Homo sapiens: one gene and its partner. The protein of the gene in region 2 purifies or fractionates together with the protein of the main gene of each other region. This does not show direct contact. Each region holds a gene or a part of one and is shown on either strand. Other genes may lie near its edges.

Evidence for each region.
Region 1: the proteins of GIT2 (region 2) and TUFT1 purify together in Homo sapiens (affinity purification with mass spectrometry, with the first as the bait; one large-scale study listed by BioGRID). This does not show direct contact.

Annotation. Positions count from the first base shown.
Region 1 is NC_000001.11:151,543,309-151,546,808, forward strand, and holds part of TUFT1 (tuftelin), read left to right. Parts: intron 1-2,487; exon of another isoform or gene 2,488-2,583; intron 2,584-3,500. UniProt on the Homo sapiens protein: Involved in the structural organization of the epidermis. Involved in the mineralization and structural organization of enamel.
Region 2 is NC_000012.12:109,982,869-109,986,368, reverse strand, and holds part of GIT2 (ARF GTPase-activating protein GIT2), read left to right. Parts: intron 1-2,674; coding exon 2,675-2,761; intron 2,762-2,865; coding exon 2,866-2,996; intron 2,997-3,500. UniProt on the Homo sapiens protein: GTPase-activating protein for ADP ribosylation factor family members, including ARF1.

The sequences.
Region 1 (3,500 bases), on a different chromosome or scaffold from region 2:
TATTTCAGTTATATATATATGTGTGTGTGTGTGTGTGTGTGTGTGTGTGTGTATTATATATGTACGTGTTTGTTTACTGGGTCTTGATGTGAAATATGTTTTTGAGATTGAAAAGTTTTGCAAGCCACTGTGGTAAGTTATATTGGCAAATAAAAGAACAAATAAACACCAAACTCCTTTTTACTAGATATTTCCATTAACTTCCTTTGGTTATAAACAACAGAGAATGACTCCAGCTAAACTAAGCAGATGAGGAAATTATTAGAAGGAAATAGAGCAGTTCACAGAATTTAAGGGAAAGCTTAGAAAGCCCTAACCAAGGATGTTCTGGGGCCTGGGTAAGTGGAACGATGGAGGCTTACTACTATTGGTGAATTGGTTCCAGCTGTTTTAGGTCTCTGCACCATTATGCTCAAGATTCCAGGGAGAGAGTACCATTGTCCCTTGGCCCCCAGTTGTCCAGAGCAGGACAGGGTTCCTTGACTGATAGGCCCCCCCCAGATTACAGTGATGGAAGGAGATTCTCCAAAGACCCAAGTGTTGTTATCAGTGGAGGGGAATGGAAGCTGCGTGGCAAAAGAACAGATGTCTATGACATTAGACTTTACCATGGATGATCTCTGATTTCATTTCCCTCCTTCCCTCTCTTCCTTCTTTCCATCCTTCTTTAAATCACTTTTTTTTTTTTTTTTGAGACAGGGTCTCACTCTGTTGCCCAGGCTGGAGTGCAGTGGTGTGATCATAGCTCACTGCAGCCTTGAACTCCTGGACTCAAGGGATCCTTTCACCTCAGCCTCCCAAGTAGCTGGGACCACAGGCATACTCAACATGTTTAGCTAATTTTTCATTTTTCGTAGATATGGGTTCTCACTATGTTGCCCAGGCTAGTCTTGAACTCCTGGTTTAAAGTAATCTTCCTGCCTCGGCCTCTCAAAGTGCTGGGATTACAGGTGTGCACCACTGCACCTGGCCTTAAATCACCTTTTTTTTGGGCGGTGGGAGGGGGAGGATGGAGTCTCACTCTGTCACCCAGGCTGGGGTGCGGTGGCACAATCTTGGCTCACTGCAACCTCCATCTCCCTGGTTCAAGCAATTCTCCTGCCTCAGCCTCCCGAGTAGCTGGGATTACAGGCATGGGCCACCATGCCCAGCTAATTTTTGTACTTTTACTAGAGATGGGGTTTCATCATGTTGGCCAGGCTGGTCTCAAACTCCTGACCTCAAATGATCTGCCCGCTTCGGCCTTCCAAAGTACTGGGATTACAGGCGTGAGCCACCGTGCCTGGCCTCTTAAATCACTTTTTATCAAAGGAGTTTCACTCTTGTTGCCCAGGCTGGAGTGCAACGACGTGATCTCGGACATTTAAAATCACATATGTGCATGATTTTAAAGTATCAAAGTATCAATAATATCAAAAGGCTTTTAAAAGAAAATAGCAGTCCCCTGCTCCAAGTTCTGCTCCATGGAAGTAACCACTTTCTACTCTTTGAGCTGTTTTGTGTTTACCTCCATGTTTCTAAATAATATGCTTACAGTGATTTTAATTGATTTATCAGTTTTAGACATCTATTGACTTCTGTTGTAGGAATTATAGGAAAATCTATACTCCCACCCCTGACATGCTTCCTTCCCATCCTCCCAGTGTAATTGTATTACAATTTTTGGTAATGTAATAAACTAGTTTCTGTTAATAGCATTGTGGTCAAGAGCATGGCTCTGGGCTGAGTGCAGTGGCTCACGTCTGTAATCCCAGCACTTTGGGAGGCTGAGGCAGGTGGATCACCTGAGATCAGGAGTTCGAGACCAGCCTGACCAACATGGCAAAACCCCATCTCTACTAAAAATACAAAATTAGCCAGGTGTGGTGGTGCGCACCTATAATCCCAGCTACTTGGGAGACTGAGGCAGGAGAATCATATGTACCCAGGAGGTGGCGGTTGCAGTGAGCCGAGATCACGCCATTGCACTCCAGCCTGGGCAACAAGAGTGAAACTCCGTCTCAAACAAACAAAAAAAAGAGCATGGCTCTGGGAATCTGACTAAGGTGGGCTCTAATCAGGCTTTGATGTCTGCTTTGCCCAAGCTCACTTAGGCAAATTACTTAATTTCTTCATTCTTAGTTTTCTCACTTGTAAAACTGGGATAATAATTGCACCCTTCTCATAAGGTAGTTGTGAGGATTAAATTAGATAATACACATAAAATATGAAGCACAGTGCCTGGCATGTGGTAAGTACTCAGAGGTTAGCTATTATTTTCTATTTCTACTGGCTTAGACTAGACTGTTTTAACCTCCTATAAGCAACCAGCCAAGGGATGGAGGAAGAGTCTGGGAACTCTCTGGTTTGGGCAAGGTTTGCTCCTCCTCATTATGCTGACTTTTGTTTATTCCTGTTTCTTTCTCGTTTCCTTGATGATCCAGGTCCCTCAACCAGTGGAGAGTCCCAGGGGTGAGAGGAAGGCCTACAGATAGACCCAGGGTGAAGACCTGAGTAACCTTTGCTAGTCCTGACTCAGCCAGTACTGGTCTTAGACTGGTGATGGGTCAGGGTTCATATTTTGGCATCTCTCTCTGGGCATCTTTCCTCTTCTTTTTTAGACCTCATGACCAAGGCAGCTGGTGTCCCCTGCTGCTCTGGTTTCTTTAAGTAATATATCAGTTTTATCTTTCTTTCGAATATTTGCATTTTTTTCTTTTTTTTTTTTTTCTACAGCATCTTTTTATTGTCTTTACCATTACTTTAATGCATTTTAAAATTTATCTACATTAATTGGGAACTATTTGCATTTTTTTCATCCTCTCTCTCTTTTTCTTTTTCTTTTTTTGGATTTGTCTTGGCCAGAGAGGTTCTCCAACACCCGGGTGGACTTGGAATTTTTTTATCAGCTGCAATCTGAAGACTTGTCTTTACTGTGGAATAGGTGACATTCCTTTAGGACCTCAGAAGCTCAAGTAGTTTAATGCCAAGTCTTTCCAGAGCCTCACTCTCTTTTATTTTTTAAATTAGAATTGTGATTTATTGAAGCCTTACCATGAGCTTCATATAATTTTTTATGAACAGCTTTATTGAGATATAATTCATATACCCCATTTAAAGTATGTAACTCAGTGGTTTTTAGTACATTCACAGAGTTGTGCAATCATCAATAAATCAATTTTAGAACATTTCCTTACCTTATAAAGAAATCCTGACCCATTAGCAGTCACTCCCCATTTCCCCCCAATCTCTCTCAGCCCTAGGCAGCCACCAGTCTACTTTTTTTCTCTATGGATTTACCTATTGTGGATATTTAATATAAATGTAATCATCGGTATGTGATCCTTTGTGACTGGCATCTTTTATTAGAATGATGTTTTCAAGGTTCATCCATGTTGTAATGTGAATCAGTACTTCATTCCTTTTTATGGCTGAATAATATTCCATTATTTAGATGTATTACAACTGTGTTCGTCATGGATAAATGTTGGTGGACATTTGGGTTCTTTCTACTTTTTGGC
Region 2 (3,500 bases):
TGAGCCACTGCGCCCAGCCATGGTGGATTAACTTTTGATGTGCTACTGGATTTGGTTTGCTAATATTTTGTTAAGAGTTTTTTAAAAAATCTGTGTTCATCATGGATTTTGGCCTGAAGTTTTCCTTTTTTGTTGTGTCTTTGCCAGATTTTGGTATCAGGCTGATGTTGGCTTCACAGAATGAGTTAAGGAGGAGTCTCTCCTCTTTGATTGTTTGGAATAATTTTAGTAGGATGTTCTTCTTTGTATGTCTGGTAGAATTCAGCTGTGAATCTCTTGAACTGGGGAGACGAAGGTTGCAGTGAGCTGAGATCATGCCACGGCACTCCAGCCTAAACGACAGAGTCTCACTCTGTTGCCCAGGCTGGAGTGTCGTGGCACAATCATGGCTGACTGCACCCTCAACCTCCCTAGTCTCAAATGATTCTCCCACCTCAGCCTCTCAAGTGGCTGAGATCTCAGGCATGTGCCACCAAGCCTGGCTAGTGTGTGTGTGTGTGTGTTTTGTTTTTGTTTTTTTTAGATAGAGTCTCTGTTACCCAGGCTGGAGTGCAGTGGCACGATCTCGGCTCACTGCAACTTCCACCTCCTGGGTTTAAGCGATTCACCCGCCTCAGCCTCCTGAGTAGCTTGGATTACAGGTGCCCACCACCATGCCCGGCTAATTTTTTTTGTATTTTTAGTAGAGACAGGGTTTCACCATGTTGGCCAGGCTGGTCTTGAACTCCTGACCTCAAGTGATCTGCCTGCCTCGGCCTCCCAAAGTACTGGGATTACAGGCATGAGCCACCGCGCCTGGCCAGTTTTTGACTTTTTGGAGAGATGGGGTTTCACCATGTTGTCCATACTGGTCTCAAATTCTTGGGCTTAAGCAGTCTGCCTGCCTTGGCCTCCCAAAGTGCTGGGATTACAGGCGTGAGCCACCACATCTGGCCTTTTTTCCCCCCCCTTTTTTAATCCCCAGCAGAATCTGGCTGAAGAATTCAGAATTTGAAATTTTGCATAGAAATGCATATACTAGCTACTTCCATTGATTAATAAGACTTGGTATGTGTTGGGTTTTTTGTTTTTTGTTTTTTTTTCCTTGCCAGAGTTTTAAAAAATTAGGCACAGTGGCACATCCCTGTAATACTAGCTACTTGGGAGGCTGAGGTGGAAGGGTTGCTTGAGCCAAGGAGTTCAGTCCTGCCTGGGCAACATAACGAGACCCTGTGTTTAAAAAACAAAAAAACTATTTAAAAAATTAAACTTAGATGTTAGAGTAGATTTCTTCATTCCTGTGATAAGGGTTACTGCATCTTGGACAATTCTAGGTTAGATTTGAAGGAAGGCAGCTCATCTTCTGACTGTATAAGAGCTTTTCTGCAGTAGTACAGAATTCGGTATATCACGGGCCTTTTCCTACCCTGAAAGACTTTATTAAAGCATATTATACAGGCCAAGAATAATGTGGTAGAGAGGGTATTGTATAAGGCAGGATCCTGTAGCTTACACAGTGTAGAATTTGAAGTCCTAAAGCCCTAATTACAGTAACAACTAATAATAATAACTGTTATTATAGCATTTGTATTCTTTGAGCACTTTATTATATCACTAAATCCTTATAATAACCCTGTGAATAGGGCCAGGCACGGTAGCTCATGCCTGTAATCCCAACACTTTGGGAGGCCGAGGTGGGAGGATCACTTCAGCTCGTAAGTTCGAGATCAGCCTGGGCAACATAGTGAGACCTCATCTGTATTGAAAAATAAAAAGTTAGCAGGGCATGGTGGCCGGCGCCTGTAGTCCCAGCTGTTTGGGAGGCTGAGGTGGAAGGATTGCTTGAGCCCAGGATACTGAGGCTGCAGTGAGCCATGATCACTCCACTGCACTCCAGCCTGGATGACAGAGCAAGCGAGACCCTTTCTAAAAAGAAAAATGCCACCTTTTAAAATTTTTTTTATTTTTTATTTTTTTTGAGACAGGGTCTCGCTCTGTCACCAAGGCTGGAGTGCAGTGGCATGATCACAGCTCACTGCAGCCTCCACTGCCCAGGCTCAGGTGATCTTCCCACCTCAGCCTCCTTAGTAGCTGGGACTACAGGTGCGCATGCCACCACACCCAACTAATTTTTGTATTTTTTGTAGAGCCAGAGTCTTGCTATGTGGCCCAGGCTGGTCTCAAACCCCTGGGCTCAAGTGATCCTCCAACCTCAGCCCCCCAAAGTGCTGGGATTACAGGCATGAGCCACTGCATCTGGCCATTGTTGACATTTTTGAGATGAGGAAAGTGAGGTTCAGATTGCTTAAAGCCCTTTCTCCAGGCCACACAGCTTGAAGTGGGTATAGTTTGAAATTCAGGTCTGTCGTATGTCAGAGCCACGCATAGTCACCTCTTCACACAGTCCTGCCTCTCACTCAGGTTCTGGTTGTGCCACTTCTTAGATAAGTCATGCATTTGGGCAAGTCAGCCTTCACAGCCCTAGTTTCCTTATCAGTAAAGTGGCCTCACTCCACCTTACAGCCCAGGGACAGTTGTGACTGGCAAAGGAGAGACTGGTCCATGCACTTTACCGAGACAAATAAAGATTATGCGTTACTGATGTAACATATATTAAAATGGTCTATCAGCTGCCCTAGGACATCATTCTTTACACCTCTAACCACGATTCCTTTTTTGTTTCTGCGTTTTTCAGCAACTCCATTCGAGCGTGAGAACAGGGAATCTTGAAACCTGTTTGAGACTGTTATCTTTAGGAGCACAAGCCAACTTCTTTCATCCTGTAAGAAAACATGAATTGCTTCAGATATTGAAACTAAGTGAGTTGTGTTCATGTAGCCTTTATTTAATGTGCTCTTTTGCCTACTTTTTATTAATGATTCTTAGGAAAAAGGAAACACCCCACTCCATGTTGCCTCCAAAGCAGGGCAGATTTTACAGGCTGAATTATTGGCAGTATATGGAGCAGACCCAGGCACACAGGATTCTAGTGGGAAAACTCCCGTTGATTATGCAAGGTAAGAGACCTAGATTCTCGCTACTTCTCTCTGGGATTTTTTTGTTGGGTGTGATTCCTTGTTAAGTAGCTAAGTTGTATATGTTGATATTGAACCCCTTTAAAGATGTACGTTATTTTATTTTACAGATGAAGACATTTCAAATGCATATAAGCTCAGCCTGGCAAAGTTGAGGAAGGCTAGAATCATGAACCAGTGTGCTAAGCTTCCAGTCTTTTACTTGATCCTTTATAACACAGTGATGTTTGAGCTGTAGTCAGATTCCAAATCAAGTATCAAGAATTACAGAATGTACTCTTCTGTTTTTTAATACTCTTAGTTATTTCTTGAACTTAAAAGCAAATATATACATAGATATGTGATTAAACAAGTATAGTAAAAAGTTAATTGTAAGGTTTGGGTAGTAGACATCTAAGTGCTCACTCTAGGCCAGGCATGGTGGCTCACACCTGTAATCCCAGCACTTTGAGGGTCCAAGGCGGGTGGGTTACTTGAGGCCAGAAG